Homo sapiens: one gene and its partners. The protein of the gene in region 1 interacts with the protein of each later gene in a pairwise test. Each region holds a gene or a part of one and is shown in the gene's direction. Other genes may lie near its edges. The genes, in order: SLC13A1, PNPLA6, TM4SF1, SELPLG, TP53I11, ACOT2 and TBRG1.

Region 1 (3,500 bases):
GGCATTAAGAATTTCTAAAGCTAACATGATGTATCAAGATTTATAGCTACCACCTAATGTTTTCATTCCATCTGTTTGTACCTGGACTGAATTCAATGTGTCTTTTTATATAAAACGAAATCTGGTTACATGATGCCTGGCCCAATTTGCCAAAAATACAACCAAAAATTATAACTGAAATAAAAGAAATAAGGTATAATAAAATTATAAATATCGGTCCAGTTTGTAAGATAAATTATGGTAAGGTAGATTTTTAACTAGTAATGAAAGAAAATGTGTCTATACTTAAAGAAAGTAGACTGCTTTAAAAATTGCTAGATTGAGAAAGATACGGCATTTCTTTGGCTTTTTAGATTTTTCAAATAAATTATAGAAGTAGAGAAGCTTCGGTAGTGTATACATATTACTGAGTTGCAAGATAGTAAAAGAATCTTTAGCATGGTACATATTTCTTCTCAGGCTACAGAAATGCACTAGTTAATATTGCTGACTTTTAACACTAAATGCTAATTATTAATGCCTATTTCAGTTATATCTGGTCTCCAGGTTCTTTCCTGTTGAGGCTTCTGGGAATCTGTCTTATTTGTTACAATGGTCTGGTGATTCTAAGACCCCATCTGTTCCTGAATCAGTCTTAATTTATATGGTGATCATTTGTGAGCATTGGCTAAACCACTCCAACAATTAATATTCTTGATTGAATTTCATGGGGTGCAAAAAATTAAGTAGGTTGCTTTCCTTTGTATGATATGGTTAGAGCTTATAAACACAGAAGCAGGTGTGATATCTCAGAAAACAGATCAATTCCTTTTCACAATTTATAGAAGAGCTTTAGAGGAACACAGAAATATCACGCCTTGCCACAATTTAATAGAAGGATGTTATAAATCAATTATATGGGGCTTTCCATGCTCTAGCAATGTTTCAACTTCAAATCTTGATCAATATTATTAAATTAAATAATTCAAAGAAGAAATTGTTTAACAAATCTGTAAGCTTATCTAAAAGGGAAATTTGCCACTTTGGCCTAGTATGTCAGCATGTGTATACGTGGTATTGAAAATAAGAAGAGATATATGGGAACAATAAGACTATGGTCTGAGATTATTGTTTTTAGTGTTGTGTCATTTAATCGGGAATCCATATATTTTAGGGCAGATTATTGAGGATAAATAACCTACACCACCTACTACTGATAATAACCTATTACTGATATGTTATTAGCAAAATTGGTGTTTTAGCTCATTTAAGTTCTTGATGCTATTTTTAATACATGTATTTGTCCCTTTTACAGGTACCCTGGTTTTGCTACAGATTCAACTGTTGCTTTACTTATAGGGCTGCTATTCTTTCTTATCCCAGCTAAGACACTGACTAAAACTACACCTACAGGAGAAATTGGTTGAGTATCATTTATAATTCTGCATAAATTTAACAGAAGAGCAAAAATTACAAAATTCCATTGGTTTCGCTTGGCACCTAGAGCAGAAAGAAAGTCTATGCTGGCACAATCCCTGGCCTAGCATGCCCTATTTGCAAACTGCAATGCTGTCTTCAAGCCAGCACAGCTTCCACCTTCAAGAGAGATCGTCTTACTTTGCAGAAGTGAGAAGTAGATTTCCTTTTGTATCATGGCTAGGGCTCTGCTACAAGCGATACTATTTGACCCATGGTAAACTCACTTCAAAATTAATCTTACTATTGGCAAACAGAGGAAAAAGAACTTGGAAGACACTGCTTCATTATGATACCTTGGTAATAAATGCAGAGGATCTAAAAAGGTGATGAATTTCAAGAGAAAGAGTATTTACATTCTCAAAGTAGTTCTGGAACAAAAGCTAAATAAACCTCACATAGCCATATCCTAGGATCACAGCTGAAATAAAAGGGCCAGATGTGGTGGCTCACACCTGCAATCACAGCACTTTGGGAGACTGAGGCAGGAGGATCACTTGAGGCCAGTAGTTTGAAACAAGCCTTGGCAGCATGGTGAGACCCCAGCTCTATCAAAAAATTAAAAAAATTAGCCAGGTGTGGTGGCCAATCTGGAGGCCAACGCAGGAGGATCACTTGAGCCCAGGAGTTGGAGGCTGTAGTGAGCTATGATTGTGCCACTGCCCTGGGCAACAGAGGGAGACTCGGTCTCTAAAAATAATGATAGTAATAAAAATAAAGAAAAGGTATTCTGTGACAGCATTCATTGTATTTACAACACATGAACAAAGAAGTGTGCACATTTGCCTGAGCATACCATCCTCTCAACACACACACACACACACAGACACACACACTTTTTAAACACAAGATTCATCCATATCTTTGCTTTACAACACAGCATGTTTTGAGTAGTCAGATTCCTATCTTGTCAATGTGGGACAACTAATTTGTAATTGTCTGGAAATTAACTAGTAGACTTGTGGTTTTGTTTGTTTGTTCTTATGGGGATGGAACTGGGATTTATGTAGTTGTGTTGGCCCACTTGACTCTTGTCAGAATCTATAAATGACTAATGTATCAGATTTCCAGGACATATGTGACCAGCACAGCATAGAAACAAATGTACTTTGTTTTTCACTTGAGATTAGAATATCTCAATGTGTGTTAAGGAGGTGATGCAATATGGAGCATTGATTCCTATGGGACCCCAAGGACTCTGATCATTGCAGTCAAAGCCCTGAGGTCTGGCAGTGGCAAGTACTGAGGAATCCATGTTTGGCTTTAGCTTCCCTGGTTTCCACATCTGAATTCCCTCCCTTAGAAAGAGCCTTGCTCCTACCCACCTTTCTCTCTCCCCTCATTCTTCAAAACCTCTTCTCCCTGCTAAAGTCATTCATACAAGGCTTAAAAATGACAAATAATATATAAATATGTTAAATTTTAAATAAGAAGTACTTGTCAGAGATGTTTACATTTTAACAAGATATATGACCTTAAAGTAAGAAACCTGGTGACATAATTTCAGTTATCAGTGAGGATGGGTTTGGTTTGGATTTGGGGGAAGATGATAGGAAGGAAGCTTATTGGTAAACTTAAAATCTTACCATGTAGAAGGCTGCCTGTTATACACAAGTTAAATGGGCAGAATATGTCTCCAAATGAACTTCTTTATCAACAAAGCAATGGAGAGATCAGAAGCCAAATATAAAGAGAAATCTTTATGATAATCCTTTTATAAGCACTTTAAGAACCTCATAAATAATACTTTATTTAATCTGAATCTTGAATTATTTTTAAACTGAAATCTTGGTGAATCTATCATGATCCTCCTTATGACCTAAAAACTAATAAAATGTTCAAATATTAATGGATAATAATTAAAATGCTACAAGATGCTATTGGAACCAATGGAATATTATGGACATTTTGCATAGCAAAGAATATTATAGTCTAATGCACTGTGCTATTCACAGTTGGCAAAGATGTTAGTGGAATATAAATGAATGAGTGAGTGAATGAATGAGTACCATTATAAGTGACAATGTTATAATTTATTGAAATAT
Region 2 (3,500 bases), on another chromosome or scaffold:
TCCTGGCCAACATGGTGAAACCCCATTTCTACTAAAAATTCAAAAATTAGTCAGGCACGATGGCGGGCGCCTCTAGTCCCAGCTACTCGGGAGCCTGAGGCAGGAGAATCACTTGAACCCAGGAGACAGGTTGCAGTGAGCTGAGATCGCACCCCTGCACTCCAGCCTGTGCAACAGAGTGAGACCCTGTCTCAAAAAAAAAAAAAAAAAAAAAGTGGGCAGGGAAAACCCTTAGTGGTCCCTGCCCTTGGGCAGCCCACCGTATTCTGAGAGACATGACTCAAAGGATTACACAAATTCTTGTAAAATCATAAGTGCTTAGTGTCACAAAGGAAATGATCTTGGCACTACAAAGTCTGGCTTAGACAGGGTGGCACCTCTAAGGGCATGACCTAAGAAGGAAGGAGGGGGAGGAACAAACTGGGTGCAGGTGGGAGGAAAGGTCATTCTAGGCAGAAGGAAGAGCTTGTGCAAATGTTGTGTGGTGGGAAGAAATAGGTTGATCTCTAAGAAATAAAAAAGGAAGTCAGTGGGCCTCAAGTGAAACAATATTTTTTGGGGGGGTGTAATGGTTTTATTGAGCTATAATTCATGTACTATACAATTTACCCATTTAAAGTATATACTTTAGGCTGGGCACAGTGGCTCACGCCTGTAATCCCAGCACTTTGGAAGGCCGCGGCGGGAGGATCTCTTGAGTCCAGGAGTTCGAGACCAGCCTGGGCATCATGGCAAAACCCAGTCTCTACAAAAAACAAACAAAAAAAATTAGCCAGGCATGGTGGCGCATGCCTGTAGTCCCAGCTACACGGGAAGCTGAGGCAGGCATAAGCCACTGCACCTGGCCATGCCCACCTAATTTTTGTATTTGTAGTAGAGACAGGGTTTCGCCATGTTGGCCAGGATGGTCTTGAACTCCTGACCTGAGGTGATCCGCCTGCCTCACCCTCCTAAAGTGCTGGAATTACAGGCATGAGCCACTGCACCCGGCCTTATGTAAGGGCTTCTGTGTAGACATATATTTTATTTATTTTTTTAAAGGTGGGGTCTCACTATGTTTCCCAGGCTGGTCTTAAACTCCTGGGCTCAAGTGATCCTCCCACCTTGGCCTCCCAAAGTGCTTGGACATATGTTTTCATTTCTCTTGGGTATATACCTAGGAGTTGAATTGCTGGGTTATAAGCCAATTCAATTTTTTTTTTTTTTAAGAGGGAGTCTCGCTATGTCGCCCAGGCTGGAGTGCAGTGGCGCGATCTCAGCTCACTGCAACCTCTGCCTCCTAGGTTCAAGCAGTTCTCCTGTCTCAGCCTCCTGAGTAGCTGGGATTACAGGCACACGCTGCCACGCCCAGCTAATTTTTGTATTTTTAGTAGAAACACGGTTTCACCATATTGGTCAGGCTGGTCTTGAACTCCTGACCTCAAGTGATCCATCCACCTCAGCTTCCCAAAGTGCTGGGATTACAGATGTGAGCCACCATGGCCAGCCTCTATTTTTAATTTTTTTAAGCACTGTGTGTTTGTTTGTTTCTTTGCTAGACTGTTTTCCAAAGCAGCGGCACCATTTTACATTTCCACTGACAGTGTATGTGAATTCCAGTCTCTCTACATTCTCTCTAACCCTTTGTAATTCTAGCCATCTTTGTGGGTGTGAAGTGTAGTATGTCATTGTGGTTTTGCTTTGCATTTCTCTAATGACTTGACGTTGAACAGCTTTTTATGTGCCTATTGGCCATTTGTATATCTTCTTTGGAGAAGTTTTTATTCAGATCTTTTGCCCATTTTACTCTTACTTTTTTTAGAGACGGGGGTCTCACTATGTTGCCCAGGCTGGTCTCCAACTCCTGGGCTGAAACTATCAAGCGATCCTTCTGCCTTGGCCTCCCAAAATGCTGGGATTGCAGGCGTGAGCCACCGCACTTGGCCTTTAATTTATTTTAGAGACGGGGTCTTGCACTGTAGCCTAGGCTGGAGTGTAGTGACGCTATCATAGCTCACTGCAACCTCAAACATCTAGGCTCAAGCAATCCTCCTGCCTCAGCCTCCAGAGTAGCCAGGACTATAGACACATGCTACCATGCCTGGCTAATTAAAAATTTTTTTTTTTTTTTTTTTTTTTTTTTTTTTTGTAGAGACAGGGTTTCACTATGTTGCCCAGGCTGGTCTTGAACTCCTGGGCTCAAGCGATCTTCACACCTAGGCCTCTCAAAGTTCTGGGATTACAGTTGTGGGCCACCACACCCAGCCCCTTCAGTATACTTTAAATCAGGGGTGTCCAATCTTTTGGCTTCCCTGGGCCACATTGGAAGAATTGTCTTGGACCACACATAAAATACACTAACAGTTATAGCTGGGCATAGTGGCACACACCTGTAATCCCAGCACTTTGAGAGGCCAAGGCGGTTGGATCACTGAGGTCAGGAGTTCAAGACCAGCCTGGCCAACATGGTGAAACCCCGTCTCTACTAAAAATACAAAAATTAGCCAGGCGTGTGGCAGGCACCTTTAATCTCAGCTACTTGGGAGGCTGAGGCAGGAGAATCACTTGAACTCTGGAGGCAGAGGTTGCAGTGAGCCGAGTTTGTATCACTGCACTCCAGCCTGGGCAACAGAGCAAGACACCGTCTCAAAACCAACAAACCAAAAAACCCCACTAAAGATAGCTGATGAGCTAAAAGAAAAAAAATCGCAAAAAAAAAAAAAAAATCTCATAATGTTTTAACAAAGTTTATGAATTTGTGTTGGGCCAAATTCGAAGCCATCCTGGGCCACGTGCAGCCCGTGGGCAGCAGGGTGGACAAGCTTGCTTTAAATCATCTCGAGATTACTTATAATACCTAATACAATGTAAATGCTATGTAAATAGTCATTATACTGTATTATTTAGGGAAAAACGGGGAAAATAGTCTGTAAATGGTCTGCGCAGGTGCAATTTTTTTTTCCTGAATATTTTAGATCCAAGGTTGGTTGAATCCTGGGTATATGGAACATATATATATATATACACACACATATATATACACACATATATATATAGAGAGAGAGATGCTGCTCATCTATATATAATCTATGTAAAAAAATTTTTCTTTTTTTTTTTTTTTTTTTGAGACGGAGTCTCGCTCAGTCGCCCAGGCTGGAGTGCAGTGGCGCGATCTCGGCTCACTGCAAGCTCCTCCTCCCGGGTTCACGCCATTTTCCTGCCTCAGACTCCCAAGTAGCTGGGACTACAGGCGCCCGCCACCACGCCTGGCTAATTTTTTGTACTTTTAGTAGAGACGTGGTTTCACCGTGTTAGCCAGGATGGTCTCGATCTCCTGACCTCGTGATCCGCCTGCCTCAGGCCTCCCAAAGTGTTGGGATTACAGGCATGAGCCATCGCGCCCGGCTAAAAAATATTTTTATATTTATTTATATTTATATATAGATGGTGCTTATATCCAAAGTCTTTATTCTCTCCTTCATGTTTCTTTTTTTTCTTTTTTTTTTTTTGAGACGGAGTCT
Region 3 (4,138 bases), on another chromosome or scaffold:
CCTTCTTCTTCTAAGCTAATGCCTCCCTACCTTGGTCCTTTTCTATTTTCTGTACTCTCTATCTTGTCCTGGTGACAAGGCCCTCCAGGCCTGGCCCCACCCGGCCACCCTGTCCACCTCCCACCACCATCCACTGGCTGGTGCAATCTGCTGTTCAAGGCATAAATTTATTCAGTGCCCAGCCCCTCCTTCTGCAAGGTAACCACCTAGAAAGTTAGTCTAACACCCTTTCTCTGCCCTGTGTGGGGAGCCTGTGGAAGCTGGTCTCAGGATCTGGCTGGGTAAACCATCTGTTTACCTCTGTGTGGGTTCTGACACTCCTAGCCAGTTCTGTTTCTCTGAACCTTGTTTCTCCACTCTGCTTGCCAAGTCCCTTTGTCTTATTTTTTTCTCCCTCTCCCTCCTTCCTTCCCTCCCCCCATCCTTCCTTCCTTTTTTCCTTCCTTCCTTCCTCCCTCCCTCCCTTCCTCCCTTTTTCCCTCTCTCCTTCTCTCCCTCCTTCTCTTCTTTCCTTCCTCTCTTCCTTCCTCCTTTCCTCTTTCCTTCTCTCCCATTCTCTTCCTCCCCCTCTCTTCTTCCTCTTTTTATTTTTGTCCCATGCTTTAGGCCTTCCTTGGCCCTTCCTGGCATTGCTTTTCCTGACAGCAACACTCAATAATTTTTAAAAAGCACCTGAGCCCTTTGTGTTGACTGATGCCACCTCTGTTGTGGTGCAGATTTGTTTTAGAGGCAGATGTCCAGGGACGCTGAACACTGAAATCCATCCTGCAGAGCTTGCTGTAGGCAGAGTAAAGAAGTTTGCTCTGTAGTTTTCCCAACAGCCTTCTCAAATCCATGGGAGACGTCTCAGACACCTTGTATTTAATAGACAAGGAAATGAGCTCAGGAGATTTGCCCCAGGTTGTAAATTAAATCAGCACAAAGGTAGAAATGAACACAGAGCTCTCAGATTGGAAGCTGTCCAGACAGCTGCATGGAGCAGGGGCACAGCTCACTGTCTTTCAAAGCCTCAACCAGGGCTGTTGCATCTCGGACACTTGGCAGTTACTGGAAAGTCATGTTAGGCTTTCCTGTTGATTCTTTATCTTGTGGAGGAGTTGCACAGTCAATGCCTTGTTCAAGATTAATCATTTTCCCTGTTGCCTATGACTGAGGCTGTTTCTCACATCCTGCCCCTGGTTTTGCCTGTCCCAAGGATTTCGTCTGAAGGGCGGGACATTCCCCCTGCCTCTTCGCACCACAGCCAGAGCCTGCCATTAGGACCAATGAAAGCAAAGTACCTCATCCCCTCAGTGACTAAGAATCGCAGTATTTAAGAGGTAGCAGGAATGGGCTGAGAGTGGTGTTTGCTTTCTCCACCAGAAGGGCACACTTTCATCTAATTTGGGGTATCACTGAGCTGAAGACAAAGAGAAGGGGGAGAAAACCTAGCAGACCACCATGTGCTATGGGAAGTGTGCACGATGCATCGGACATTCTCTGGTGGGGCTCGCCCTCCTGTGCATCGCGGCTAATATTTTGCTTTACTTTCCCAATGGGGAAACAAAGTATGCCTCCGAAAACCACCTCAGCCGCTTCGTGTGGTTCTTTTCTGGCATCGTAGGAGGTGGCCTGCTGGTAAGTCATTCAGGATTATTACTGAATTCTCTCCTGTTTCCTAGATGTTTTCATTATGTATTTTCATGGAAAGTTTTTTGTAATGCATATTTCTAAATCAAGTGACTTTTTTGTTGCTGTTCATTCCTTTGAAAGCAGATTATACAAAAGCGAGATTGGTACAGTATAGCGTAGTAATTTTATGAGATGTTGTTTTACAAAATGCTCTTTCAACTAAAAGTGAACTGCCTTTTTGCTAAACTCTATAGGTAGGAAACAGATATTCGCTTTTAAATCAGATTTGAGAGACTATAGAGTTTCTACTAGAACGGGCAGTCATTTAACATTTGCTCTGGGGAGCCGGAAGGGGTTGGCTGGTTCTCTGCCTAAATCAACAGTTTTGAATCCAAATTCTCTGCTGTTTATTTTCAGCCATCTGTGATAGGGAAAAATAATGAATTGTGAGTGCATTGCTATTTTAAAAGAACTCTAAGCTTTCTCCTTTATGTAAGGCTGGGGTGTGGCGTCTAGGAAAAACCCTACAGTTAGCAGCAGGTCGGTGTCTGAAGCTAATAGTGGAATGTGTTATTTTTTCCAAGAATTGTTTTTGATTGAAGTGAGAGGAATTTCCCTGCCAACCTGGGAGCTGAAAGCATTAGCTTCAACCACAGCATGGAAAGAATGTGAGCAAACTTAAGTTTGCTACTTTAAAGTGCTGGGATTAAAAATTTTAAGGAGAAATTTTATGGAATGGTACCATACGTGATAAATTTTCTTAATCAAGTAAAAGATAGTAAAACATTTAAACCTAATACACTGATTATGGCATGGCAAATCTGCCCTAAATTATTTATTTAATGAGATTTTATTTAATTTTATTTTATTTAATGAGACGGGGTTTCGCCATGTTGCCCAGGCTGGTCTTGAACTCATGGGCCCAAGTGACCCTCCTACCTTGGCCTCCCAAAGTGCTGGGATTACAGGCATGAGCCACAGTGCCCGTCTGCCTCAAATTTAAGCATTATTATCATGTTAACATGATTATTTGTCTTAAACATAACATCACACTTAAGTTTCTTTCGATCTTGAACCTGAAGTATTTCATATTTACTATATTTTAAGAGCTTAATATTGTTAAGTTAAAACTATGCATTTGTATAATCAAGGAAGCAGTTAATATTTATTATATATAGCTTTCATGTCTCCCATTTACAAAAAAGTTTCAGTTATTCTATTAAAGATTTGTTGGTATATTCTGCATTTTACAAGTGGAAAAAATCAGATTTAAAGAAAGGGTTTAATATTTCCAAAACAGAGTTTGTTATCTGGGGTCGTGTGATAAACTCTTGTGGAATAAACACGTTTACAGTTTATTATTTTACTCCTCCCATGTTACATCCTCACCCTAAAAAATGCTTTGACAGATTACATGAAAACAAGCAGATATGACATTTAAATGGTCTTTTTCTCCTCAGAGGTTTACATTCTTTGAGATATCTGGTCAACCTAATCAAAGCCAGTTAATGTCATTGGAAATAAATATATTTTACCAAGAGATGCCTAACCTGACCCATATGAGCCTGAGCAAGACAATGACCTGACTTTGTTTGTTTCCTAACCAGATGCTCCTGCCAGCATTTGTCTTCATTGGGCTGGAACAGGATGACTGCTGTGGCTGCTGTGGCCATGAAAACTGTGGCAAACGATGTGCGGTAGGTCCTCCTGCCCTGGTGGTGAAAATGACTCCTAAGATGTAGCTGTGGCACTCTGTGGCTCACTTCCTGTGTGTCTGCTTTTCCCTAGATGCTTTCTTCTGTATTGGCTGCTCTCATTGGAATTGCAGGATCTGGCTACTGTGTCATTGTGGCAGCCCTTGGCTTAGCAGAAGGACCACTATGTCTTGATTCCCTCGGCCAGTGGAACTACACCTTTGCCAGCACTGAGGGCCAGTATGTAATTACTCTCTACATGGCTACACATTTTTATCCACCACATGTATATAGTGGCAGCTCTATCAAACCAGATAGGCATCCACTTATCCATCCATCCACCCACCTAGCCAGTGTTTATTCTCACTGACTCAGGCATGGTTTAGGCAATAGGTATCCAAGGATGGATCCCCAGTCCCCGACCTAAACAAATTCTAAATGCTTCTTTTCTTTTCTTTCTTTCTTTTTTTTTCCCCCAGAGACAGGGTCTTGATCTGTCACCCAGGCTAGAATGCAGTGGCACAATCATAGCTTACTGCAGCCTCTAACTCCTGAGCTCAAGCAATACCCCTTCCTCAGCTTCCCAAATACAGAGTGCTTTTGAATAGATTCAATAATTCAGTCCTTATAATAACCCTATGAAGTGACTTCCTATTTTAAAGATGAGGAAACAAAATCACAGAGAGATGGAGTAATTCATCCAAGGTCACGTTGCCAGAAAGTGGCAGTTAGCATTTGAACCCAGGCAGTCTAGATGTAGAGTTTGTGTTCATATAGTGCATCTCAATTACTTCATACATTATACCAGAACAATTGCCTGATTAAGTGTAATA
Region 4 (3,500 bases), on another chromosome or scaffold:
CAAGCTCCTCCTTTTTCTTACTCTGCCCTCCCTCTCCCACCCAAGTCCACAAGCCCAGCCTTCTGTCTCCTCAACTAGGTCAGGTGTCTCCTGACGGCCTCATGCCTTCCTGAACCTCACTGGGTTTCAGTCTGATCTTGACCTCTCACCAGCTGTGTGTCTTTGGGCAAGTCACTTCACTTCTCTTAACCTCAGTGTGGTCCTTGGTAAAATGGGGATAATTGTGAGGGCCAGATGTCTCTGGTGCAAATATCGTAAAGTTTGGTTTAAGAAAGTATTTTTTTATTTTTTAGACAGAGTTTTGCTCTTGTCTCCCAGACTGGAGTGCAGTGGTGTGATCTTGGCTCACTGCAACCTCTGGCTCCCAGGTTCAAGCAATTCTCCTGCCTTGGCCTCCCAAATAGCTGGAATTACAGGGAGCACCACCACGCCCGGCTAATTTTTGTATTTTTAGTAGAGACAGGGTTTCACCATGTTGGCCGGACTAGTCTTGAACTCCTGACATCAGGTAAGCCACCTGCCTTGGCTTCTCAAACAGTTGGGATTACAGGCGTGAGCCACTGCACCTGGCCTAAGAAATTATTTTAAGATGTGGGTCGGGTGTGGTGGCTCATGCCTATAATCTCAGTGCTTTGAGAGGCCGAGGCAGGAGGATTGCTTGAGGCCAGGAGTTTGAGACCAGCCTGGACAACAGCAAGACCCCGTCTCTACAAAAAAAAAAAAATTAAAAATTAACCAGATGTGGTGGCATGTGCATATAGTCCCTACTACTCAGGAGGCTGAGGTGAGAGAATCACTTGAGCCTAGGAGGTCGAAGCTGCAGTGAGCTATAATTGCACTACTGCACTCCAGACTGGGCGACAAAGTGAGAATCTGTCTCTAATATAAGTAAGTCAATAAATAAATGGAAATAAATTAGTTTAAGATATGATCAGATTTGCATATTTGAAACCAACATAGGCCTGGCACGGTGGCCCACGCCCTGTAATCCCAGCACTTTGGGAGGCCGAGGTGGGCAGATTGCTTGTGGTCAGGAGTTTGAGACCAGCCTGACCAACATGGCGAAACCCCGTCTCTACTAAAAATACAAAAATTAGCTGGGCATAGTTGTGTGCGCCTGTAGTCCCAGCTACTTGGGAGGCTGAGGAAGGAGAATTGCTTGAACCCGGGAGGCGGAGGTTGCAGTGAGCCAAGGTCGTGCCACTGCACTCCATCCTGGGCAACAGAGCGAGACTCTGTCTTGGAGAAAAAAAAAAAAAAAAAAAAGAAAAGAAACCAACATAATTCTAACTAACATATGAAAGAGATCAGATTGAACCTGGCTGGAAGGTGAGGGGCCCGTGAGTGAGTTACAGTCACCCGAGGAATGATGAGCAACTGTTCGTTCCTCCAAATCATGTGAATGAAGTACAAAGGAAGAGACTGGAAATTGTCCGGGTGCTATTCTTGAATGCCCACTCTGCATCAGACACTATTCTAAAAGTTGTGTGCTGCTGAAGGGTGTTATATCCAGGGAATGCAGGAATACCTGAATCCTGCCCCAGAACGTGGCTGTCACTCACCATAGGATTCTCAGCATAGAATTTTTAATTCTGTAAACACCAGCCAGTGCCAAGGAGAGCATGAGGGGAGAGAAAGAAAACAAGAAAGCACAGGTGTTCACAATGCCAAGAAGAAAGATCAATGAGATGACCAAACAAGAGGCACTGTCTTTTCTGGCTACCTAGTAGGGAGGACAATGTAGAGTCTCTGAATAGACAGTGGTCCTACCCACAGGCACACTCAGTGACTATAAGCTTCCTGAGAGCAGGGCTGTTCTGAAGAGATTTGAGTTTTCTCCTGGCCATGGAGAGTGTAATTAAGTAGCCCTGGGCCCTTGAAGACTTATAGTGCAGGTTGACTGAAAGAACTAAATCAGCCAGTCTTTGCGGAGAGGTTGTCATGCAAACGAAGTGCTAAGGGTCTTGCATGCATCCCTTCATTTTATCCTCACAATAGGCTGTGAAGTAGGCACCGTCATCCCTGTTGTGCATTGTGCAGGCAAGAACACCACCAAAGCAAATGGGACCAAGACAAGACATTGAGAAGGAATGAGACAAACTGAGACTCTGAGGACTGGCAAGGGCTATGGAGGGTGGAAGCAAGATAGGAGAAGGAGGAAGACAGACATATAGAGGTGGCATGGCAGTGGGCAGGGAGAGGGGGCAGCAGGTAGAATCAGACTCCAAGAGGCCTCAAAGGTCCAATAAGCAGCGGTATCTGGGAGGTCTGTGGTTTACAAACTCTTCTGCTTATGGACTTCGTAAGTGGTCAATTAATCTATTTATGAATTCTGTGCAGGTACTACTTTACTCTTATGATAGATTATAAATAATGTAATACTTGAAATTAAGAAGGAGTGACATGAGGTCGGGCGCAGTGGCTCATGCCTAATCCCAGAACTGTGGAAGGCCAAGGTGGGCAGATAACTTGAGGCCAGGAGTTTGAGACCAGCCTGGCCAACATAGTGAAACCCCGTCTCTACTAAAAATACACAAATTAGCTGGGTGTGGTTGTGCATGCCTGTAATCCCAGCTTCTCAGGAGGCTGAGACAGGAGAATCACTTGAACCCGGGAGGTGGAGGTTGCAGTGAGCTGAGATAGCGCCACTGTACTCCAGCCTGGGTGACAGAGCAAGACTCCATCTAAAAAAAAAAAAAAAGAAAAAAGGAGTGACATGAAAAGTTAATAGAACTAGAAGCAGAAGCACTAAATCTTTCTACACCCCAGTGGATTGTCTTGTCCACAAATAAAGTGGCTTAACCAAAATGGAGAGGGAGGCAAATCAATTTCTATGCACCATCTAGAAGAAGTTAAAGGGCCCTCCTGGATGGCTTTATTCATGTTGATGAGTAATAATAATAACTGCTACTGGCTGAGGATCTTCTCCATCCCAGGCATGTCAGGGATGCCTAAGTCCCCAGTCCCTGCTCCAGACCAGACATGCTTCCAGCTGTGGCAGTAGAGGGTGGTGGTCTAGGGTGCTTGCTAAGCCCAAGGGTGAAACTGTCTTGACATCCCTCCGCCCATTGTCTCCTCCTAGGTGCCATGCCTCTGCAACTCCTCCTGTTGCTGATCCTACTGGGCCCTGGCAACAGCTTGCAGCTGTGGGACACCTGGGCAGATGAAGCCGAGAAAGCCTTGGGTCCCCTGCTTGCCCGGGACCGGAGACAGGCCACCGAATATGAGTACCTAGATTATGATTTCCTGCCAGAAACGGAGCCTCCAGAAATGCTGAGGAACAGCACTGACACCACTCCTCTGACTGGGCCTGGAACCCCTGAGTCTACCACTGTGGAGCCTGCTGCAAGGCGTTCTACTGGCCTGGATGCAGGAGGGGCAGTCACAGAGCTGACCACGGAGCTGGCCAACATGGGGAACCTGTCCACGGATTCAGCAGCTATGGAGATACAGACCACTCAACCAGCAGCCACGGAGGCACAGACCACTCAACCAGTGCC
Region 5 (4,169 bases), on another chromosome or scaffold:
TCCTATTAACTCTAAATCTCTACAGCAACCATAGCCGGTTCTTACTATTGGTTGCTCTAGGTGACTTACTTTGTCCAAGGCCACACAGGCACTAAAAGGCAGAGTCAGGATTTGAACCTAGGTGATCTGGTTCCAGAGCCTGCTCTATTAACCGTTAAGGAACTGGTGCAGACAGAACCGAGACCTGGAGTCAGAATGCCCACCTAGCTAGATGCCTGAGGCAGCCACTCACCTCTTTCTGTCTTATTTACTTGTGAAATGGAGCATGTCATCAGCCTTGCCTTCCTTTTCCCGCAGCCCCCCACCCCGGTTCCTGGCCCACTGTGACCATCAGATCAGATGAAAGAGATCCAGGCATTTCTCTAAGGAGAGCACAGGGTGGTGGGGGTTGGGGTGGGAGAGAGCACATTATTTTCCCACCATAAGGGGTTGAAGGAGCCCAGAATTTGGGGGTGGGGCCTTGTCTGTAGGAGCCTGGTTCTCTCAGGTTGACACGCCACCAGAGAGCCTCCATGACCCCCAACCCTCATCCTCACCCCAGCCCCCCATAGGATGTGTAGAGACAAAAGGTTTGACAACTGTAGCGCCAACAAGCGTCCTAGAGCCCCAGATAAGATCCTAGCCTCCTGACAGCGCAACTGACAGCAGCATCTCTGAGGCTGGATTTTAGGGTGGAGTATGAAGAAGGTGGCCGTAGTGACAGTGGGGTCATGTTATTTGGCCAAGTCACACCAAGCAGGGAGAGAGAAGGGTGGGCCTAGGCTGGAAGCCTGAAGGCTGAGTGAACTCAAACTTTAACGACCATGGCCTGTAAAATGGGACTAAGCACAGCGCCCTTATGGGTTGCTGTGAAAATCAAATGAGTTAATACTTGTAACTCCTTTAGCATATGGTGTCTGGCATCAGAGAGTGCGCAGCAAACGGTGACTATTGTCGTGACTGTGTTATTACACACTTGGGTATCACCGCCAGCCAAAGCAGTCCCTTCCATTTCAGGCACCGGCCTGGGCCCGGGAGACACCGCAAGGCTATTTAAGATGGTGTGGTTTGCCCATCTACGTTGATCGTCCCAAGAAAGGGGCACCGTCTGCAGAACTTGCCAGGAAAGTCATCCTGGGCGGCGCGGGCCACGCCAGGGTCTCCCCGCGCGGCTTCCTCCCCCGGCGCCTTCTCTCGGGCGCGCGTGCGCCCCCTGCAGGCGGCCCCCGGGAGAGCCTCGCGGGGGAGCCGGGAGCCTGGTTTCCCCGCCAACCCCCATCCCGCCCGCCCCGGCGGCCACCCTGGGGGCGAGGCAGCCCGGCGCGTGGGAGGGGACGGCGCGCCATTGGCTTGTGCGCGGAACCGAGAGGAGGGACCAGCGCGGGCCGCCAGACTCGGTAAGCCCCGGCCGCGCAGGGCGCCGCGCGCAGTCCAGCCGGCCCGGCCCTGCCCTGCCCTGCCCTGTCCTGCCCTGCCCTGCCCTGCCCTGCCCTGCACTGCCCGGCCCGGCACGGGCGGCGCGATGTGAGGCGTCCGAGCCCGGAGCCTCCGCCTGGCATCAGCTCCACGTAGCCCAGCGCCGGCACGCGCGAGGCCCGTAAGTTCTGCTCCCCGCCGCCGCTTCCGAGCCGCGGACTTTCCCCTCCCGCCGCCCGCCGCCTGCGCAGCGCAACCCAGCGGGGCTCCTGCGGCCGACGGGACCGCAGAGGGGCGGCCGGGACCCCGCGCGCGCTAACCGGGCGCCCCGGGACATCTCGGCACCCGCTGAGCCCGCTGGGACCCCAGGGGGTCGCCTCCCCAGCTCCCCAAGGCGCCGTCCCGCAGCCCCTTCCGTCTCCCCTGCGCGCTCTCCCCTCGCCGCCCCTCCCTCTGACTCGGTTTCCCCTCTCCCCCGGCTCCGCGGTCGCCCTCCTCCTGGACTGCTTATTTCGTCCTCGGCCACTGCCTCTCGGGCTCGAGCTTTCTGCTTCAGAGCAGGAGAGAAACGGAGCGAAAGCAGTTTCTGTCTCCCCGGGGTCTGACTCGGTCCCCCGCGCTCGGTTCTCTGTCCCCTCCCCCTCCCGCCATTGTTCCCGGCAGGAGGAGTGCGCGGCGCAAACTTGCGAGTTCCCCCAGTCTTTGCCCCCGCAGGGCCGCGGACGGAGGTGGTGGCGGAGTTCCCGCTGCCCACAAGTCTGGCCCGACCTTCTGGGGTGGGGGCCTGGGGGCAGGGGCCCTGGGCCGGAGAACCCGGGGCCGCCTAACGGCTCGGAGCTCACCGCCGGGGGACACCGGCGCTGAGGCCTGGGTCTCAGAAAGTGGGTGAGTGTCTGGAGCGGGGACATCAGGGACAGATTGCAGGGGGAGGGGCGAGGCTGAGAGAGTCCCCCGTCCCCAGGCTGGAAAGGGGCGGGCAGAAACCCAGGCCGCGCCTTAGCCCAGTTAGGGGGTGGGTAGGGGACGCACAGGTGGAGACGCCCCCCACTCTCCCCAAAGTCGCGCGATCTGCAGGAAGGGTACAGTGTGGGGCCACTGGCCGGGCGCTGGGTGGGTTAGGGCCCCTGCCGTGGGCAGAACACTCGCACCTACCCGGGGGAGGCTGTGTGGAGGAAGGGCCAGAACGCCGCGCCCACCCCGGCGCGCCCCGCTGGGCGGGGCGGGGCGGGGCGCTCGCCTTGGGTCCCCTCGCTCTACCTTCCTTCGCCCTGACCCAGTCTCGGGCTTCCGCCTCTTCCTGGAGCCCGGGGGGAGTGGGTTTCTCCGCCGGAGAGATGGAGGCTGGGGCAAGAGCAGCGCGGAGGCCAAGAACCCCCAGGCTCCTCCAAAGCCCAGAGCGGCTGGCCAAGGCCCCCTCACCGCCCCACTACCCTGCACTTCCTGATTGGTTTCTTTCAAACAAACTTCTTGACGGGGCGGGCCTGCGGGGAGAAGTCACCGGGGCTGCCCACCCCAACTATGTGGTCCCTTGGACCTCCACCCCTGACGGCCTGTGGAGAGGGGACCAGGATCTGCGGCCCGCAGATCCCAGGGACGCGGGGGTCGTTTTGTTGCAGAGCCAGGAGGGGGCACTGTCCGCTCCTTAGCCTCAGCCCCAGACTTCGAGAAAGGAGAGAAAAGATTTTTCTTGTTGGGTTGTTAGGAAATAAGACTATTCTCCAGGCTTCTGTTGTCCCATCTGTAAAATGGGTCGTCTTGTTCCTGAGGCCCCCTCTGTCCCCACCATCCCAGGAGGCCCCTGCCATGGCCGCTTCTTTCCCAGTCACATGTCGTCAACTTCCTCCGTGCTTCCAAATTTGGAGTGGAGGGCTAAGGCCGAAAGCCCCTTCACCCATGTCCAGCTGTCATGACCTGCCAGTTCTAGGACTGCGACCTATTTTCTGCACAGCTCTGCCTCCAGGCCCCTTGTGGCTTCTCCAGCTCACACCCAGCCTCCCAATTTCTTTTGATAGCCCCACCTCTGTGGGAAGAAGGGCCTGCCCCTCTTGGGGTATGGGGGAGGAGGGGGCTGGATTTAACAGGAATGCCCCATAGTCACACAGTTTGGGGCTGTTCTTTACTTTTGCTTATTGAACAAAATGTTTGTGAGCATTACACCAAAAATGGCTTATGGAGCAAAGTGCCAGGGACAGTTTCAGGCACTGGGGAGACAGCTGTGGACAAAATAAAAATTTTTGTCCTCATGGAGCTGATGCTTAAAAGCAGGGGGCAGGGGGAGGCAATTCCCTAATAAAAACAATAAGCAAATTATATAGTGTACTGAGAGGTGAAGGGGAAAAGTTGTGTTGGGGGTATTGAGGCCAGGGACCGGGTTGTCATTTTAAATAGGGTGTCAGGGAGGTCTCCCTGAGGAGGTAACTTTTGAGCTACAGCCTTGAGGGAGATGAGGGAGTGAGCTGTGTAGACAGCTAGAGCACAGCCCATGCAAAGGCCCTGAGGCTGGAATGTGCCTACCCTGCAGCTAGCAGGGAGTGAGGGGCTGAGGAAGAGTGAGTGACTGAGAAGGGATGAATTCCTCCCCTTTCACAGGTGAGGGAAGTGAGGCTCAGAGACAGTATGTCAGTCACCCCAGGACACACAGGCCAGGAGAGGCAGCTGCAGGGCGGGGTGCCTGATGTTCTGACTCCTGGTCCACGATACCTCCCCGGCACCCTGTGTCTCACTGTTTATCCTGCTACACTGGCTGGACCCCTCCCAGGGCCAGCGCAGCATCG
Region 6 (3,943 bases), on another chromosome or scaffold:
AGTCAACTGGAAACAGTCCAAATGTCCATCAACAATAGAACAGATTAATAAATTGAGGTATATTTCCAGCAGTCAAAGTGATTGAACTACAGCTACAAGAATCAACATCTATCAAGATATACAAAAGAAAAGAAAAAAAAAGAATCAACATGGATGAATCTCCAAACCACTGTTGAGTGAAACAGTCAAACCCTAGGAGAACACATTCAGTATCATTCCATTTAGATACAATTCAAAAACTAGGCAAAATAAAATATTAAGGTACATAATCTAAGTGGTAATACTATGAAGAAAACCAAGAGTGATACACAGAAAGTCCAGGATACTGGAAAGAGAGGAAAGGGCACAGGGGTCTGTGGGACGTTGATGGTTTGCGGGTATCAGCACTGAACTATGTCTTAAAAGTGTTGCCTGTAAGGTGTTTGCATTTTTTTTTTTTTTTTTTTTTTTTTTGAGACAGTGTCTCGCTCTTTCGCCCAGGCTGGAGTAGTGGCACAATCTTGGCTCACTGCAACCTCCACCTCCCGGGTTCAAGCGATTCTCCTCCCTCAGCCTCCCGAGTAGCTGGGATTACAGGTGGCCGCCACCACACCCAGCTAATTTTTGTATTTTTAGTACAGATGGGGTTTCACCATGTTGGCCAGGCTGGTCTCGAACTCCTGACCTCAGGTGATCCACCCGTCTCAGCCTCCCAAAGTGCTGGGGTTACAGGCGTGAGCCACCGGACCCAGCCTGCATTATTACTATTTAATTTTGTGTGAAACACAAAACCTTTAATGTAAATGATAAAAATATCAGTAAGTGGAGTCATTCAGAATGAGTAGCCTTTTGAGTCTGTCTCCGTTGAGTAAGTGCATTCTGTTGAGTGCACTGGAGAGGAATTTGTGCTCTTCTATGTAGCAGTCTTTCTTTTTGTTTCTTGGTGGTGCACCATTAAATGGATTCATTCACCAGTTAAAGGACATTTGGGTTGTTTCCAGTCTTTGGCTACAACGAGTAAAGTCACTATAAACACTTGCCAGAGGTTTCTGGACGAACAGGTTTTCATTTCTCGTGGGTAGATACCTAGGAGTGGGATTGCTGGGTCACATGTGTGGTAAGTATATGTTTAACTTAAACCATCCAACTGTTTCAGGAATAGCTTAGTTTTGCATTTTGTTTTGTTTCTTCCCAAGAACCTGGGCCCTTTCCTGGGATTGTGGACATGTTCGGAACTGGAGGTGGCCTGCTGGAGTATCGGGCTAGTCTGCTGGCTGGGAAGGGTTTTGCTGTGATGGCTCTGGCTTATTATAACTATGAAGACCTCCCCAAGACCATGGAGACGCTCCATCTGGAGTACTTTGAAGAAGCCATGAACTACTTGCTCAGTCATCCCGAGGTTAGTTCTTCTTTCAGATTTATGGGCTATGATGTATCAGGTCTCTTCTTAAATGGTCTGGGTTTTCACAGAAGTTAGCTCATTCATGACAGCCATTCCCTACCCCAACACACACTACCTTTTTTAGTCACTTCTTATAGACAGTTTCTTTTTTTGAGATGGAGTCTCACTCTGTTGCCAGGCTGGAGTCCAGTGGTGCGATCTTGGCTCACTGCAACCTCCACCTCCCAAGTTCAAGTGATTCTTGTGCCCCACCCTCCCGAGTAGTTGGGATTACAGGCACCTGCCACCATGCTTGGCTAATTTTTGTATTTTTAGTGGAGGCGGGGTTTCACAATATTGGTCAGGCTGGTCTTGAACTCCTGACCTCAAATGATCCACCTGCTTTGACCTACCCAAGTGCTGGATTACAGGCATGAGCCACTATGCCCAGCCTAATATTTGTATTTTTTTTTTTTTAAGTAGAGATGGGGTTTCGCCATGTTGGCCAGGCTGGTCTCAAACTCCTGACCTCAAGTGATCTGCCCACCTTGGCCTCCCAGAGTGCTGGAATTACAGGCATGAGCCACCACACCTGGCCTCTTATAGACAGTTTCTATTCAATTCTATATTACTATATTTCCTGCTAGTAAAGAGATTCGTAGTTGTTATTATGCAATTTTAAATTCCAGTATTTTTTTTTTTTTTTTTTTGAGATGGAGTCTTGCTGTGTCACCCAGGCTGGAGTGCAATGGCATGATCTCGGCTCACTGCAAACTCCACCTCCCAGGTTCAATTGATTCTTCTGCCTCAGCCTCCCACGTAGCTGTGACTACAGGCACGTGCCACTACTGCCCGGCTAATTCTTGTATTTTTAGTAGAGATGTTTCACCATGTTGGCCAGACTGATCTCAAACTCCTGACCTCAAATGATCCACCCGCCTCAGCCTCCCAAACTGTTGGGATTACAGGCGTCAGCCACCACTCCCGGCCATGAGATGATGTACTTGTTGATGATGACTCAGTTTAGTTATGACAGTGGGAATGGGTGGCTCAGGTGGGAGACAGAAAAAGATCATGGGAGATACGAGATTAAGGAACTGAGAAACCAGAGAATAATTGATAGATCTTCCACATGGTTATCACCAAGAGTGGTGATGGACAAATTGTGGAAAGGAAGAGATAGAGGGGAGGTAAATTCTCAAAGTTGCAAATCTGGGTAAATGGTAGAACCTAGATTCAGACTCAGGTTCAACTAACTTCCAGGGTGGACACAACTCACCATATTCCACTGTTTGTGGAATCATTCTTCTTCTTTTTCCTTTGTCCCTTTCTCAGGTAAAAGGTCCAGGAGTTGGGCTGCTTGGAATTTCCAAAGGGGGTGAGCTCTGCCTTTCCATGGCCTCTTTCCTGAAGGGCATCACGGCTGCTGTCGTCATCAACGGCTCTGTGGCCAATGTTGGGGGAACCTTACACTACAAGGGCGAGACCCTGCCCCCTGTGGGCGTCAACAGAAATCGCATCAAGGTGACCAAAGATGGCTATGCAGACATTGTGGATGTCCTGAACAGCCCTTTGGAAGGACCTGACCAGAAGAGCTTCATTCCTGTGGAAAGGGCAGAGAGCACCTTCCTGTTCCTGGTAGGTCAGGATGACCACAACTGGAAGAGTGAGTTCTATGCTAATGAGGCCTGTAAACGCTTGCAGGCCCATGGGAGGAGAAAGCCCCAGATCATCTGTTACCCAGAGACAGGGCACTATATTGAGCCTCCTTACTTCCCCCTGTGTCGGGCTTCCCTGCATGCCTTGGTGGGCAGTCCTATTATCTGGGGAGGGGAGCCCAGGGCTCATGCCATGGCTCAGGTGGATGCTTGGAAACAACTCCAGACTTTCTTCCACAAACACTTGGGTGGCCACGAGGGGACAATCCCATCAAAAGTGTAAATTTTATTTGATCATGTGGCCTCTCTGTTGCTAATCTCTCCTGGAAACATCTGCCACATTTAGTGTGTGTATGTGTATTCATTCTTTTGTTTTTAATAACTAAAGTTTTTTCCCCTCATTATTAAAATGAATTTACCAGTAAGAATGAGTTTTTAAGATTTTTATAAACTGTATACTTTATCAGTTTGGGAAGGGAGTAACTGTAGGAAACACAAGAAGTGGAAAAAGTCTCCTCTTCCTATCTCAACACACAACTGATAAGGCTTTAGTTCTGAAAGGAAAAGTGAGTAACATCAATTAACAGTGTCTGGTACGTAAATGGAGTTCAATAATTATTTGCTGAATGAGTATAAGTGAGCCAGGCGTGGTGGCTCACACCTGTAATGCCAGCACTTTGGGAGGCTGAGGTGGGCGGATCACTTGAGGTCAGGAGTTTGAGACCAGTCTGGCCAACGTGATGAAACCCCATCTCTCCTAAAAATACAAAAAATTAGCCAGGCGTGGTGGCAGGCACCTGTAGTCACAGCTACTTGGGAGGCTGAGGCAGGAGAATTGCTTGAACCTGGGAGGCGGAGGTTGCAGTGAGAAGAGGTTGCAGTGAGAAAAGATTGTGCTACTACCCTCCAGCCTGGGCAACAGCAA
Region 7 (4,300 bases), on another chromosome or scaffold:
ATTATACCATATTAACATTGCCAATTTACTTGTCTGTCTTTCCTTCTTAAATTAAGGTTCTTAAAGGTGGTATCATAATAGGCACTAGGTAAATATTCTTCTAAACAAATAAGGACTGAATGAGTTGCTCAGTGGCATGACCTTTGTGGAGCACACATATCCAGCCTCTGAACAGTCCTATATGGAAAAAGCTTTGGACGCAAAGATATGCTTTTAATGGAATTGACCAAAAAGTCAAAGAACATGGAAATAATTATGCAAAATATAATATAGCCATAACTGGAATATTAACCAGCCACTTAAAATTATGCTTATAAGGAAGCTATACTAACATTTGTGAAACTGAAATGATACAATGGTAAATGAACAAAAAGAAAACTTTATTTTCAGTATTGTCTAACCTATACAAAAATGCATAAAATATTAGACACATATACTAACATGGTAAAAGTAGTTCATTCCAAGTGGTAGCATTATGGATTTTTAAACCTTTCTTGTACTATATTTTCTAAATTTCTAAAGTTCGAATGAAATGTTTTGTAAGTGTAAGGAAATGTGTCCAATGAAGAAGAAACAAAAAATATCTTCATGCAAATCCCACTAAAGTCCATTGGCCAAAACAGCCTGCAAACTAGGACAAAGGATAGCACTTTTCTTCCCCCTAGATGTGATACATGTATATGAAAATAAATAATACAAATAAAGTCAGACCCCAAAGCCCGCAAGGACAAAATACAGCAGAACAGCAAATTTTTTTTTTGAGAGAAAAAACTAGAGAGTTACTGAACTAGTTATTGGCATCGCTGGAAGAAGATGCAAGCAAGCCTTCTGCCATCCAGCCTGGGTCACTTACCAATACCGCACCCTAAAGATTTTTCTATCTTCCCTAATTTTAAATAGACCTTGGTTGTAAAGTTAGAACCATATACATGTACATATTATGTACAGAAATACACTTCTGGTTTCACTAGACAAACATTTACTGAGTGCCTACTTAGTGCTAGTATTAAAACTGCGTGTTAAATCTCTCATCTTCCCTACTAGAAAGAGCCAAGGCCTTTCTTCCTGTTCACTACTGTGTTCCCAGCTCCTGGGAAGATGATAGCATTAGGAGGCCCTGCAAACACATTTCTGTGAGCTGCAGAAAGGAACGAAGCAGGGAAAGAAGCAGAGTCCCAGCACTTGGGCTCACTTTGTCCTACAGTCTGGGAAAGCCTGTCTGCACGAAGCATGAAAAACGTATTAAAACGCAGTGGCCCAGCGGGGGAGCGTGAATGAGAGCTCGCATTGGTAAGCTTCTTGTTAGTTCGTTGGTTCAACTATAGTACCCTTCAGCTAAGCACACGGCCGCCGGCCCTCCCTCCTCTCCTCATCCAGCACTAGCCCCCAGCTGTCTCTTTCCTCCCGGTGCCCACGATCGCACCGCCCAGACCACCCTACTCTCCCTGCCCCGGAAGTTACACACTGCCGACACCGGGACGTAACTTCCGGGAAGGGCTTACTTCCAAGACAGACACGGAAGTGCTGGGAGGCGCCGGGAGCCCGTTCGGTTGCGGGTGTCTCTGGCCCTGCGGTCAGCCCTGGGAACGTCCCGGAGAGCTAGATTCCTAGAGGCCCGATTCCGCTAGCCCGGAACAGACAAAGCCAGCGCTCCCGCCCGCTCCCCGACTTAGGATCCGATGCCGGCAGCGTCCTGGGGCCCCCGTAGCGGGGCTGGACCATGAGCCTGCTGGACGGCCTCGCTTCCTCGCCGCGGGCTCCGCTGCAGTCCAGCAAGGCCAGGATGAAAAAGCTCCCGAAGAAGAGCCAGAATGAGAAGTACCGGCTGAAGTACCTGCGGCTGCGCAAAGCGGCCAAGGCCACGGTGTTTGTGAGTCTGACCCACGTTCAGCCGGTCCCCTCCTGGAGACTCCCTCACAAAATCTTTCCCCAAGCTGTTCCCCCTTCCCAGTGTGACAGTATTAATACAGTGTTGGCTTTTCCGTATACGTTACTACTTGTTAGCCTTGTGTCCTTGGACAAATTACGTAATTTCTCTGTGTCCTCATCTGTAAATGAGCTAGTAACTGTCTTGCAGAATAATGAATATTAAATGAGTAAAGAAAAGTGCTTGGTGCGTAAAAGACATACCAATAAATTTTAGTCATCGTTGTTACTGCAGGACTCTAGGAAATGTGTTTGATTCTCGAGATACAGCCCTGAGAATTAGGCATTATTTGTAAAATGAGAACACTGAAGCCCAGAGAGATGATTTGCCCAAGGGTACTGTGTCAGAGCCCTGACTCCAACTTAGATAAACCTGATTCCGTTTTATGACTTCCAGTACACAGACTATTTTCTGAGCACCTCAAATCCCCATAACTGACCCTTTGCCCAAAGAGGTACATGAAACTGTCAGTAATTTCCCCCCTCTAACCTTTGAGTGTTCCAAGTGTTTCTTCCTTTCTTTTATTGTAGAAGCACTGGATTTATTGAGTGAATAAACTTAATATAGCTTGCCAGCCATAACTTTATATTAGAATAGTTTGGCTTGCCTCAGTGCTTGGAAATAGGGGTGGAGTCCTCAAATGTCCCCCCACATCCAAGTCAACAGTTCATCTCTTCTCTCTACCAAAAGCTTGAACGTCTCTCAGCATTTTTGGAAGCATAAGGAAAGGTTCAGAAATTAGAATACACATTCCAAAAGCACTTATTCAGCACTTGCTATGTGTATTGCTTGCTATTTGCACTGGAGAGAAACAAGAAAAGTAAAACTAAGAGAACTTAGCATCTGATTGACTGTTCCCTTTCTTTTATCCCCTATACGTCAAAGGTACCTAAAGCTTGGAATTTATGTTATTTCAAGGATATTGGTTCCATCAAATACATAATGAAGATTTTGTGAAGAAAAAGCGATGTTGTTTTGAACATTGAGAGTTTGAAGTTCCACCTATGGGGGCATTCAGATTCAGCATTCCCTTCAGGATTGGTGCTTGGGAGATAGATTGAGTCATCATTTACAAAAAAAAAAAAAAAAAAAAGAAAAAAGATAATACTTGAATTCGTATAAGTAGATTGTGAAGTTTAAGAATTTTACACACTAAATTTGATTTTGTTCTGTCCAGTTTTTCTCTATTTGGGTTAGACTGGCTTTGTAAGTTTTTCAAGAGTTGAGGCACTTGGGAATAGACAGTTTTCATATTTATAGTATTTAATTTAAGCATATAAGGATTTAAGCAGTATGCCTTTTTCTTTGCCAAAGGCTATACTAATTAGGGTGACCATTAATCTTGGCTTGCCCAGGACAGTCCTGGTTCACCGTATTGTTCTGGCATAAGCATTAATAGTACCCCCTTTTCACTCAAAGATGTCCCGGATTGGATAATAAATTACATAGCTATACCCTGTCCATAGTAGAACCTGACTACCTTTATCTATGGATTTATTTATAGTTTGTCACACGGTCGAATAGCTCCTTCTTCTCAGTAATACAAGCTTTTTTGGTTTGAAATATGGATCCTCTTCCCAGCATAATAATGTGATTTTTTTATTCATTTTATGTTATTATATTCACATTTTTACTTAAAGGAAAATGCTGCTATTTGTGATGAAATTGCTCGTCTTGAGGAAAAATTTCTTAAAGCAAAAGAAGAAAGAAGGTGAGCTGGCTTCATTTTGTGTTCAGCATCACCTTTTTGGTGATTGATTTGGTGATTGATAATGGTGTTACTGCTCTGGAGACTTTTTTTCCCAGTGGGATTGATGCGTATCGCACAGCCCCTTGGCCACTTGATCAAGCACAGAGAAACTTACAGCCTGAGGCATTGGTGCCTGCACACCCAAGTTATGTTGGGCCATGGCGATGAGACAGCTCCTCTACTCATCTTTCTGAAAAAGCCATCTTGCCACATCTAATAAATAATCTTACTAAGATTATTTAATCTTATGGCCCAATTATAAAAGCCAAGTGATAAAAGCAACTGCCTCTCGTTCTACAAATATTTATTCTGTACGTACTATTCTGTGCAAAGCACAATGGGTATATATACATGTGTAAATAATGTGCCTTTCAGAAGCCTAACACCGTCCAACATCAAGGTAGAGGAACCGTCCAGATGCAAGAGATAAGCTACAGTTCTTATCCTTGGCCTCTTGAAGTATTGATTATCCTCCAGGGCTTTATGATTCATAGGGCCTAATAAGAACCTTTCTTTTATGAGTATAGTAATCTTTGTATATAATTCTGGCTTTTCCCAGTACTTGAGTAAAATACTGAATTGAGACAATACGGAAGTTCATTTCTCTGCTCCTTTCCTTCCTG

Evidence for each region.
Region 2: the proteins of SLC13A1 (region 1) and PNPLA6 interact in a protein complementation assay, tested with the Homo sapiens proteins (one large-scale study listed by BioGRID).
Region 3: the proteins of SLC13A1 (region 1) and TM4SF1 interact in a protein complementation assay, tested with the Homo sapiens proteins (one large-scale study listed by BioGRID).
Region 4: the proteins of SLC13A1 (region 1) and SELPLG interact in a protein complementation assay, tested with the Homo sapiens proteins (one large-scale study listed by BioGRID).
Region 5: the proteins of SLC13A1 (region 1) and TP53I11 interact in a protein complementation assay, tested with the Homo sapiens proteins (one large-scale study listed by BioGRID).
Region 6: the proteins of SLC13A1 (region 1) and ACOT2 interact in a protein complementation assay, tested with the Homo sapiens proteins (one large-scale study listed by BioGRID).
Region 7: the proteins of SLC13A1 (region 1) and TBRG1 interact in a protein complementation assay, tested with the Homo sapiens proteins (one large-scale study listed by BioGRID).

What each region holds. Positions count from the first base shown.
Region 1 is NC_000007.14:123,123,470-123,126,969, reverse strand, and holds part of SLC13A1 (solute carrier family 13 member 1), read left to right. Parts: intron 1-1,294; coding exon 1,295-1,401; intron 1,402-3,500. UniProt on the Homo sapiens protein: Sodium:sulfate symporter that mediates sulfate reabsorption in the kidney and small intestine. Can also mediate the transport of selenate and thiosulfate.
Region 2 is NC_000019.10:7,545,717-7,549,216, forward strand, and holds part of PNPLA6 (patatin-like phospholipase domain-containing protein 6), read left to right. Parts: intron 1-3,500. UniProt on the Homo sapiens protein: Phospholipase B that deacylates intracellular phosphatidylcholine (PtdCho), generating glycerophosphocholine (GroPtdCho). This deacylation occurs at both sn-2 and sn-1 positions of PtdCho.
Region 3 is NC_000003.12:149,374,850-149,378,987, reverse strand, and holds the start of TM4SF1 (transmembrane 4 L6 family member 1), read left to right. Parts: upstream 1-1,338; 5' UTR 1,339-1,440; coding exon 1,441-1,617; intron 1,618-3,218; coding exon 3,219-3,308; intron 3,309-3,399; coding exon 3,400-3,545; intron 3,546-4,138.
Region 4 is NC_000012.12:108,623,895-108,627,394, reverse strand, and holds part of SELPLG (P-selectin glycoprotein ligand 1 isoform 2 precursor), read left to right. Parts: intron 1-3,082; coding exon of another isoform or gene 3,083-3,087; coding exon 3,088-3,500. UniProt on the Homo sapiens protein: A SLe(x)-type proteoglycan, which through high affinity, calcium-dependent interactions with E-, P- and L-selectins, mediates rapid rolling of leukocytes over vascular surfaces during the initial steps in inflammation.
Region 5 is NC_000011.10:44,948,084-44,952,252, reverse strand, and holds the start of TP53I11 (tumor protein p53-inducible protein 11), read left to right. Parts: upstream 1-1,369; 5' UTR 1,370-1,576; intron 1,577-2,092; exon of another isoform or gene 2,093-2,280; intron 2,281-4,169.
Region 6 is NC_000014.9:73,572,213-73,576,155, forward strand, and holds the end of ACOT2 (acyl-coenzyme A thioesterase 2, mitochondrial), read left to right. Parts: intron 1-1,175; coding exon 1,176-1,378; intron 1,379-2,073; coding exon of another isoform or gene 2,074-2,157; exon of another isoform or gene 2,158-2,195; intron 2,196-2,695; coding exon 2,696-3,301; 3' UTR 3,302-3,443; downstream 3,444-3,943. UniProt on the Homo sapiens protein: Catalyzes the hydrolysis of acyl-CoAs into free fatty acids and coenzyme A (CoASH), regulating their respective intracellular levels. Displays higher activity toward long chain acyl CoAs (C14-C20).
Region 7 is NC_000011.10:124,621,364-124,625,663, forward strand, and holds the start of TBRG1 (transforming growth factor beta regulator 1), read left to right. Parts: upstream 1-1,500; 5' UTR 1,501-1,720; coding exon 1,721-1,870; exon of another isoform or gene 1,871-3,567; coding exon 3,568-3,638; exon of another isoform or gene 3,639-4,300. UniProt on the Homo sapiens protein: Acts as a growth inhibitor. Can activate p53/TP53, causes G1 arrest and collaborates with CDKN2A to restrict proliferation, but does not require either protein to inhibit DNA synthesis. Redistributes CDKN2A into the nucleoplasm.